Regions from separate parts of the Homo sapiens genome. Here region 2 is linked to region 1. The links come from fine-mapping of genetic effects on gene expression. A gene starts in region 1. The other region holds a variant in brackets. All regions are shown on one strand. Distances are from middle to middle. Region 1 holds the start of UNC45B (unc-45 myosin chaperone B). Region 2 overlaps UNC45B (unc-45 myosin chaperone B).

Region 1 (5,372 bases):
GGTGTGGTGGTGCACGTCTGTAATCCTAGGTACTTGGGAGGCTGAGGCACAAGAATTGCTTAAACCCAGGAGAAAGAGGTTGGAGTGAGGAGCTGAGATCATGCCACTGTACTCCAGCCTGGGCAACAAAGCAAGAATCTGTCTCAAAAAAAGCAATCATGCTCCTAATGGGGCCTGGCTCTCCTCTATCCCTCATCGATGTCTTCAATTCCCATGTATTTTATAATACATAGAAAGAGAGAGAGATCATGTTGCAGACATACTAAGTTATAATAATATTTCTAAGCCTCCATCTGGAATTTTTTTGGGGGGGGCGGGGGTGGGAGAGACAGAGTCTTGCTCTGTCGCCCAGGCTGAAGTGCAATGGCACATGATCTCAGCTCACTGCAACCTCCACCTCCCAGGTTCAAACAATTATCCTGCCTCAGCCTCTTGAGTAGCTGGGATTACAGGCGCCCCCACCACATCCGGCTATTTTTTGTATTTTTAGTAGAGACGGGGTTTCCCCATGTTGTCCAGGCTGGTCTCAAACTACTTGACCTCAAGTGATCTGCCCGCCTCAGCCTCCCAAAGTATTGGGATTATAAGCATGAGCCACTGTGCCTGGCCCCATCTGGAATTTAAAAGACCTGTGTTCTAGCCTTGGCTGGCTTGTGCCCTCAAACAAGCATCACAGATAGAAGCACCTGCTTAGCTGTTCTGTGCAGCCTGCCCATGCCACTTGCTGTCTCTATCTCAGAGTGTGGAGGTAGGGCTAGCCCTGCCCTGATGACCCACCTCCCTAACCCATTCCTACTAGGAATGAAGAGAGGGGCTGGGCAGCCAAGGGTTGTGGGAAGAGGCCCAGCTCACCTTCTCCTGAATGCTGGTGTTGAGTCTCCTCAGCATCTCCTGGAAGTTCTGGTTCCGTGGCTCGAGGGTGGCACAACGCTGCACGTCTTTGAAGGCCTGGTCCAGCTTCCCCAGGTGCTCCAGTGCCTGGCATCGCCGATACAGAGCCTTGATGTCCGAGGAGTTGATGTCGATGGCTATCGAGGGGAGACGGGGGATGAGGACCTTAGGGAGCCAGACTACAGACCACCAGCCCCACTGCCCCAACTCCAGGAAGCATGCTCTTGCTTCGTTTCTGTGTCTTCCTTGGAGATTATCCATCCATGTGGACTCTCTGGCCCTTACCTCCCCTTTGTTAGGGAGACAGTAAGATCCACAGAGTTTCAAGGTGGGAAGAGAGCTTGGGGGTCATGTCATCCAATTCTTAACGCTCCAGTCTCTGCTACAGGATCCCTGCCAGGGGCTTAACCAATCGGTGCTTGCATACCTCCAGCAGTGGGGAGCTCCCTCCTCCTCAAGACAGCCAGGCGGGCCTGGCGCAGTGGCTGATGCCTGTAATCCCAACACTTTGGGAGGCCAAGGTAGGCAGATCACAAGGTCAGGAGTTCGAGACCAGCCTGGCCAACATGGCGAAACCTTGTCTCTACTAAAAATACAAAAATTAGCTGGGCGTGGTGGCAGACGCCTATAATCCCGGCTACTTGGAAGGCTGAGACAGGAGAATTGCTTGAATCCGGGAGGCAGAGGTTGCAGTGAGTTGAGATCATGCCATTGCACTCCAGTCTGGGCAACAGAGCAAGACTCCATCTCAAAAAAACAAAACAAAACAAAACCCAAAAAACAAAACAAAACAAACAACAACAACAACAAAAGACAGCCAGGCAGCTTAATCAGAAAACATTTCCCTCTCCCTGCCTGAAATGTGTTCCCTGTAACATTGCCCAGCCCTGGAACCCTTGAGATGAAATCCAATCCTTCTTCCTTGTGACAGCCTTTTAGGAATTTGAAGGCAGCTCTCTGACCCACCTGGGAGTTGCCTTTTCTGGGCTAAATATTGCAGCTTCCCTCAACTGCTCTTCACAGGATATGTTTCCAGTCCCTTCTCCAGCTTGTTCTCTCCCTTCTGAAGTCACTCCATACTCACTGTTTCTTCCCCCAAAATGGTAACTAGATTAAAACCCAGGCCATGCAGAGGAGAATGTGACAGGGCAAGCTTGGAGGTGGGAGGGGCTCACCTCTGGAGGCATCTGAAGCTGCCTGGACGTAGCTCTCCTGAGGAAAGGGGAAGGAGAAGGAGACTCGGTTAATGTGGGCCCAATGCAGAGATGGCCAGAGAGTGTCCCCACAGTGTGGGGAGAGGGTTTCCTGGGGGAGCTGCAGGCTGTCAGAGGCCCAGGGCATGCTCCTCACAGGCATGGCAAAGAGGACAGGCTTTGACATCAGGCAAACCCAGGTTTGAATCTCGGCTCTGCTACTACTTGGGAGAGCTTGGGCAAGTTAATGAATGAAGCCCTCTGGATCCCGAGTTTCTTACCTGCGATAGGGGGAGGACAACAACAGCTATCTCACGGGCCATTAGTAAGATGCCATGAATAACACATGAAAGCACCTGGCATTGGGCTGATTCTGCTCTGGATGAATTTCTGTCTTTCCGGGGCATGGGTCAGGGGGTTGGAGGCACCCTTCTCCAACCCCAGGCATCCAGGAGAGTCGGCTGGGATGAAGGGCAATTTCTATCAGGGTGAAGGGGCTGCCACTCAGCCCCAAAGCCCCTCTGCCTCACTCCCACCCTGTGCCCTGCCCTGCCCCAGACCGTTTTCAGGCCACAGGCTGCCCGGTTCCGATAAAGCGTGGCCAGCAGGGCCTTGTCCTTGGTCAGCTTCAGGGCCTGGCTGTAGCTATTTGTGGCGGCCTTGTAGTCCTGGAGCTGGAAATGCCGGTTTCCTTCCTCCTTCAGCTGTACCGCTTCCACCTCTGCCATCTGCTGGGACAGGAGAAGCTCTGTCTGGTCAGCCCCTCACTGCAGACCCAGGGCTGGGCTCCTGGCCTGAGGTCCGGAGCTCCAGGGTCCCCTCACACCAGAGAGGATGGTGGGGATTCTGCCTGGAAGGGACCCACCCCCAGAACCCCCAAATCTATTGCCCCATGAGGACATTATAGCATTTGCTCAGAGCTTGGCCCAAGTTGAGAGTCCCTGTGCCTCACTCTCTGTCCCTCCCAGCCTGAGCAGGCGAAGCTGCTTAGTTTGTGCCAAAGGCCTGAACTCTCATTGCAGGTCTTAGAAGTTTGCCGTCTCCCTCCCCAGTCCAGGGCACACCCCAGGCCCATGCTCACTTTTTCAGCAAGGACGATGCTTTCGATCTGCCCTCTTGTGATGCTGCTCCCCTGAGCACTCCTGTGTCAACCTCCAGCCAGCCAGCCTCAGTCTGCCCCTCCCAGCCCCCACCCAAGAGATTTTCTTGCCTCAGCCAGTGGCTCTGGACCATATTTGGCCACAGGGGCAGGTGCCCCTGGAGTCTGTCACTGATACTCAGGGCCCTCCCCCTCCCCAGACTGGTCAGTCATGACCACGTGGAGGTGCTGACCAGCCTCCGCCCAAGCACCCCACTCTGGGTTATCCTGGTGGGGGGCTTAGGCACTAACATTCCAAAGAGTGACAGAAAGATCCAGAAGGGACAGGAACCCCCCAGCAGACTCCCTCCCTGGGCACAGCTCTAATGCACCTCTCCACATCTATCCCAGATAAACAGCTTCCTCTCCCTCCCCTCAACCATTGCTATTTTTGGGAGCAGAGTGACAGCTGAGGGGCTGACAGACTGGGACACACAGCAGTTGCCCAGATCCCAGACCAACTGGAGAGTTCCAGAAATACCTTTCTGGAGGGAGCGGGGAAGGAACAGGGGAAGAAAGTTCCTTCCCTTTTCCACTTCTGCGCAACACCTCAACCCACCCTGCTTTCACCTGTTCAAAATGTCTTTGCTTTTCAGAAAGACCAACAGGACTTGCTAACTCAGTTTAGTGTGAGTGAGTGGTTCGTTAGTTTCGGTCCACATGCGGTCTCCTGTTCCTCCCCCTGTGTATAGAGTGGATCTATTCAGCCTACCTCTCCCATCTGACTGTTAGCTCCCAGAGAGTGGGCTTTGTGTATCCCCCATCAGGCTGAGATCTCTTAGGGCAAGGGCTGGGTCAGACTGGGAATTCCCCCGAGACCAAGGGTCCTCCCCACCCGACTGGAAACTATCCTGGGACACACTGAGGCTCCCTCCTCAGAAGGGGGTCTTCCTGGGACAAGAACTATGTATTCACCATTGCAGAGGGGTCTCTCCTGAGGCAGGAATGTTTCTCCTTAGCTAACTGGGAGTTCCTGAAGCAAATTTATGACGTTGTCCCCAGTTGGACCCAGAACTCTTCTGCATTTCAGTGCCCTCAAGCCTGGGCTGTGAGCTTCCTCCTGGAAGGCAAAGACAGCATCCCATATAGCTTGTCCCCCAACCCCCTTCCTGCACAGGTTCTGGCACATTCAGTGTCCGAAGTGTGTTTCCTGAATGGAATGAATGGATGGATGAATGAATGAATGAATGAATGGTGTCTTCATGATGATGATTTCCTCCACTCACCTCTCATCCCTCTCCCCTCCACCCCACACATATCTTCAAACTTATCTGGCCAGAGCTGAGAAAGACACTGAAGAAAATCCCAGGTGGAATCATTCATACTAGATTCTACTCGCAGACCTGTGACCTTGGACACACAGCTATATGACCTTGGACAAGTTGTAGCGCCCTGCTGGACACAAAGCCCAGCCCTAACACATGTTTGTTGAATGAGCAAATAAATGAATGAATAGATGGATGAATTCCCTGCCTTCATGTTATCACAAGCCCTGGGCCCTTTTGTGGGGCAAGCTCTCTGCAGCAATGAGGTAATAGGATAAAGGATCCTGACATTGGCAGAGACCTGCGGTTCTGTGACTTTAGGTCCAAGGGATCTTATATTCAAATGCTGATTCAGTAATTCATTCCACAAGCATTTCTTAAACATCTTTTTGTTGTTGTTGTTGTTGTTGTTTGAGACAGAGTCTTGCTCTGTTGCCCAGGCTGGAGTGCAGTGGCACGATCTCGGCTCACTGCAACCTCCACCTTCTGGGTTCAAGAGATTCTCCTGCCTCAGCCTCATGAGTAGCTGGGATTACAGACATCCACCACCATGCCTGGCTAATTTCTGTATTTTTAGTAGAGATGGAGTTTCACCATGTTGGCCAGGCTGATCTTGAACCCCTGACCTCGTGATCCACCTGCCTAGGCCTCTCAAAGTGCTGGGATTACAGGCGTGAGCCACCGCGCCTGGCCCACATTTCTTAAACATTTATTATGTGTGAGGAACTGTGAAGCATAGAACACTGGTGAGGACAAGGATTTGTGTCTATGTTGTTCCCTCACATATTCCAAGCGTTTGTAATGGTGTGGGGCACAGTGGCTGACACCTGTAATCCCAGCACTTTGGGAGGCCAAGGCAGGCGGATCACCTGAGGTCAGGAGTTC
Region 2 (5,372 bases), 23 kb before region 1:
TCCATGGCCTAATCTCTGGAACCTGTGAACGTGGGACCTTACATGGCAAAAGGGATTTTGCAGACACGATTAAGTTAAGGATTTTGAGATGAGGGGGTAAGCCTAGATTTCTGTGTGGGCCCAATATAATCACCAGGATCTTTATAAGAGGGAGGCAGGAAGATCAGAGTTAGTACTAGGAGATGTAACAATGGAATGGAAGTGAGGTCAGAGTGGTTCAAGGTCACCAGCCAAAGCATGTAGGTGGCCTCTAGAAGCTGAAAAAGGCAACAAAATGATTCTCCCTTAGAGCCTCCCAAAGAAACCAGCCCTGCTAACACCTTGACTTTAGCCGAGTGAGACTCATTTTAGGACTCTTGACCTCCAGAACTATAAGATTTTTAAAACCGGGCCAGGCGTGGTGGCTCCCGCCTGTAATTCCAGCACTTTGGGAGGCTGAGGTGGGTGGACCACTTGAGCCCAGGAGTTCGAGACCAGCCTGGGCAACATGGCGAAACCCCGTCTCTACTAAAAATACAAAAATTAGCTGGGCATGGTGGAGCGTGTCTATAATCCCAGCTACTCAGGAGGCTGAAGCAGGAGAATTGCTTGAGCCCAAGAGGCGGAGGTTGCAGTGAGCCAAGATTGCACCACTGCACTCCGCCTGGGCGACAGAGGGAGACTCAGTCTCAAAAAAAAAAAAAAAAAAAGTATAAAAATTGCGTTTTAGGCCACAGTGCGTGTGGCAATGTGTTCTAGAAACAATAGGAAACTAAGACACTTCTCCAGATTCCCTCTTCCCAAGCAACTGCCAAGGGGTATACAGCACGCCTTGCTGTCGTGTGTGATTGTCTCTCCTCTCTTCTTCCTTGCCTTACCTAATCCCAAGACAGAGCCTGAGGAGCTGATACCGTAGAAAACCAGTCCCAAAGATTCTCTCATTCACAGAGGAATGAAATAAAAGACGGATAATCCAAAAGACTAAATGATGCGTATATTGTTTTTCTTGGAGAAGGCTGAGGTGGGAGTGGAGGTAGAGAGAGGGTATAGGCAGGAAAGGACACAGTGGATGAAGCCGCCATAACAATGGATTGGGTTTGCTGGAAACCCAAAGTCAACCCAGGGTTAAAGAGTCCCTACAGATAATCCTCAGAGTGAGGAGTGGTGGGGAAGGGGCTGACAACCCTGGGCAAGCCCTGGAAGCCACACTGGAACTTCACAGCCACAGCACATGCTCTGCACCCTTGCCTGGATGAAACATCATGCAGCTTTCAAAAATGATTCAGAGGCCAGGTGTGGTGGCTCATGCCTGGATTCCCAACGCTTTAGGAGGCCGAGGTGGGTGGGTCACTTGAGGTCAGGAGTTTGAGACCAGCCTGACCAATATGGTGAAACCCTGTTTCTACTGAAAACACAAAATTAGCCGGGCATGGTGGTGCATGCCTGGAATTCCAGCTACTTGAGAGACTGAGGCAGGAGAATCACTTGAACCTGGGAGGCAGAGGTTGCATTGAGCCGAGATCTCACCACTGCACTCCAGCCTGGGTGACAGAGCAAGACTCTGTCTCAAAAAATAAATAAATAAAATAAAAATGATTCAGAGAATGAGATGGCAATGTGAAAAACATATTTTTCCAAAATTGGGCACAAAATGATAAATATATTCTAATTATAACTGTGAAAGGAAAAAAGATACATAGAAAAAAAGCCTCTGGTAGGTAACATAACATCAAAATGCCAACAGCAGTCATGTGGAGATGACGTAATCATGAGTGGTTATTTTCTTTTCCCCACATTTTAACTCGTTTTGCAGCATGATTATATTACTTTGATCATTAAAAAAATCTAAATGATTTTATTGGCTGGCAATATCTTGCATATATTCTTAAACAAATCACACACAAATCATATCTTCATGTGCAGGGAATTGTTGGAGAGGGTTCCAGGGGATCTGTGACTTCTGGGCTAATGCTGACCATGCCTCTCCTCTCATGATTCCTACTTAGCACCCATGTCACAAAATCCAGAAATCTGAGAAAATCAAATTGTTATCTGTTGGAGACATGAAATAAAACTGTCTTTTATCCATAAAATCAACAACACAAATTGCAAAGTGTCCATCATGGCTCTGTTTGTTTTCTCAGACTATAAATTGTTGGATTTTTTTCAAAATAGAAAATAAAAACAAAGAAAAAGCATGAGCACCATCTGG[T/G]GGGAAAGTTTACCATTAACATATTCAATGTATGTGTATCTTACCCCCAACCACCCAAACACACACCGTGCCACTCCTGACACCACTCCTTTTGCCGTTCCGCCTCCTTTGGAGGCCTAGTGGCACAGACCAGACCCCTCCCGGGTCGCGCCTGACCCTACCTTGGGGTGTTCCTCGGGCACATGCTGCTTGGAGAACTTGGCGAGCTGGACAAGCTCTGGGATGACCTCCTTGACATCGTAGCTGTTGGTGCAGTTCACCAGGGTGGTGGCCACCGAGTACAGGATGGTCTTGTCACTGGTCTGGAAGGCACAGGGTTGGGGAGAGGGAAAGCAGAAAGGAAACTTTAGGACAAACCTCTGCTTCCAGGATGCTCCCTCACGTGGCCGGCAGGTTGGTGTCGGAGGAGTGCAGCTGGTAGGGCCCATTCTGAGGAAAGACAGCAGCGCAGGAGAGGAACGGTTCTCCCCATAAAGGCAGGCAGCAGTGTCTCCTGCACCCTCCACAGTAGCTCTGACAGTATGAATAGGAGCTGTCCCACAAAGATCCTCGCTTTGCGCCTCTTCCACAAGCCCAGTCTAACACTTTCCCATCCAACTGGAGATGGGGTGGGAGCTGGACATTTTCCGGTCCTGGTGAAAATCTCTCCCATGCTTCCTCCATTTACTGGTAGAAAAGGGCCAGGGAGTTGGCCCAGCAGATGAGGAAAGGAGTCTGGGGGGGCCTGGGAGGGAGGGCAGGTTCCCAGAAAGGCCAGGCACAGCCTCTTTTATTTATTTATTTTCTTGAGGCAAGGTCTCTCTCTGTCACCCAGGCTGGAGTGCAGAGCTGGAATTCTAGCTCACTGCAGCCTCGATCTCCCAAGGCTCAAGCAATCCTCCCACCTCAGCCTCCCGAGTAGCTGGGATTACAGGTATGTGCCACCACGCCCAGCTAATTTTTGTATTTTTTGTAGAGTTGGGGTTTCACCATGTTGCCTAGGCTGGTCCTGAACCCCAGAGCTCAAGCCATCCGCCCGCCTCAGCCTCCTGAAGTGCTGGAATTACAGGCACGTGCTACGATGCCCTGCTTTTTTTTTTTTTTTTTTTTTTTTTAGCTGCCTCAGGTCCTTCAAGACCTCACCTCCTGAGGGCCCCAGGAAAACAAACTGCCCTCCTGTGCATCTTCCCATCTCTGGAAGGCATTGGGAGTCGGGAGTCCATTTTACAATCAGGTAAAATGAGGGCCAGAAAGGGGGAAATAACCAATCATGTTTATACAGGGGTAAGGAGTAGAGCCAGGAGGAAGACTGGGATCCATTCCCTGTGGGTCTGGACCCAGCAGACCTTTCCTGAGGTTTGTGGTCGGGCCAGACTCCCCGACACCTGCCTTGGCCAGCTCAAACATGGCCTGCAGGGCAGGGACGTCCTGGACAAAGTCGTCCTTCACATCAGCGTCCAGCGTGAGGTAGGCCAGGCCCTCCACTGCCCAGCGTCGGGTCCGAGTGTCTATGGACATATTGCACAGCCACCTGGAAGTGAGGAGGGAGCACACATGGGAAGGGGCCCAGGGCTAGGTCAAGAGGGTGAAGCGATTTCAGGGTGGTGAACCAGGGGTGAGGTCCCTTTCACACTCCACTAGAGCACACCCCAGAGACTCTTGCCCGGAAGGCGCATGAGGAGATGGAGGGCCTGGGAAACACAGCCCCCTTACTTGCGACACTGTTTGGCCAGTTTTTCTGTCGACCCTTCCGCAAACTGCCTGAGACCGTAGTCTGTGCCACCTGCAGAGCCGAGCTTACAGAGTCCCTGAGGAGGAGAGGAGACAGCAGACACATGCAGGATCAGAGACACCAAGGCTTGGGGATGAAGCCTTGCTCAAACAGGTTTCTATGGCCAGAACACTTCGCCCCTCTTTCTTTGCTTGGATCCACCTCTGTGCAGACTGTAAAACTCAGCTCAGGTGTCACCTCTGCTGAGATACTTTCCCTGATGCTCTGGGTTAGGGTAGAGGCCCATAAAGTTGCAAATTCTTGACCTGCCCCCTTCCCCCACCATTTTGACCCCACAGATGTATTGTGCCTGCCATTTTGAAAAACCAGCAAGACCAAGTTAACCATATCTGAAGCTTCAATGGGGAACCTTGTTACGGCACAGAAACTGACAGAGAAATCCTATCTTCTGGATAACAGATTCAGATGTGCAAAATTTTACCCAGAGAAAATTGGACTTTTCTTAGGGGGGCGGTTTCATAAGAGAAAATTCACTTTTGTCAGAAGCTAGAATTTGTTTTTAAAAAATTGATGCTGGGTGCGGTGGCTCACGCCTGTAATCCTCCCAGCACTTTGGAAGGCCGAGGCGGGTGGATCAGTTAGGCCAGGAGTTTGAGACCAGCCTGGCCAACGTGGTAAAACCCCATCTCTACTAAAAATACAAAAATTAGCAGGGTGTGGTGGCAGGCATCTGTAATCCCAGCTACTTGGGAGGCTGAGGCAGGAGAATCGTTTGAACCCAGGAGGCGGTGGTTGCAGTAAGCCGAGATCATGGGGGTTGCAGTGAGCCAATATCATGCCACTGGACTCCAGCCTGGGCTACAGAGGGAGACTCTGTCTGAAAAAATAATAATAATAATAATTTCAGGCCAGGCACAGTGGCTCACGCCTGTAATCCCAGCACTTTGGGAGGCCCAGGGGGGTGGATCACCTGAGGTCAGGAGTTCAGGACCAGCCTGGCCAACATGGCGAAACCCCGTCTCTATTAAAAATACAAAAATTAGCTGAGTGTGGTGGCACACGTCTGTAATTCCAGCTACTCTGGGGGCTGAGGCACAAGAGTCACCTGAACCTGGGAGGCGGAGGTTGCAGTGAGCTGAGATTTCGCTGCTACACTCCAGCCTAGGTGACAGAGTGAGACTCCATCTCAAAAAAACAAAAAGTAAAATGAAAGTGGAAAAAAAATACCTTATAGAAACTGATTAAGGAAAGTGACTCTTCAGAATTTGCTCTGAAAATGCATTCTGGACACAAGCTCCTCAGTGTTCATGTTGTTCATAAGCAGGGAGACGAACGTCCTCAGGGTTAAGCAGCAGAGTTCACGGTTCTGAATCTACATCCTCACAAGCCCCCTGGATATTGCCCTGTTCTGCAGGGGTCTGTGGCTGGGTCTGGTGCCCCCTTGAACCTGGTCTCCTCAAGGACAGCAGC

The links. PIP is the estimated chance that this variant, and not a neighbour inherited with it, causes the effect.
Region 2: its variant is fine-mapped to the expression of UNC45B in blood mononuclear cells (TOPMed, PIP above 0.99).

Annotation. Positions count from the first base shown.
Region 1 is chr17:35,145,704-35,151,075 of GRCh38, reverse strand. UNC45B (unc-45 myosin chaperone B) reads right to left here and starts at 3,259. Exons shown (of 20, transcript NM_001267052.2): 1 at 3,166-3,259; 2 at 2,645-2,812; 3 at 2,067-2,103; 4 at 853-1,028. The coding sequence starts at 2,812. RefSeq lists an enhancer at 1-6.
Region 2 is chr17:35,168,443-35,173,814 of GRCh38, reverse strand. UNC45B (unc-45 myosin chaperone B) reads right to left here. Exons shown (of 20, transcript NM_001267052.2): 11 at 3,884-3,978; 12 at 3,560-3,701; 13 at 2,353-2,493. Among named protein-coding and RNA genes, the nearest start is that of SLC35G3, 23 kb to the left of the region's middle. The variant T/G (reference allele first, on the strand shown) is at 2,192.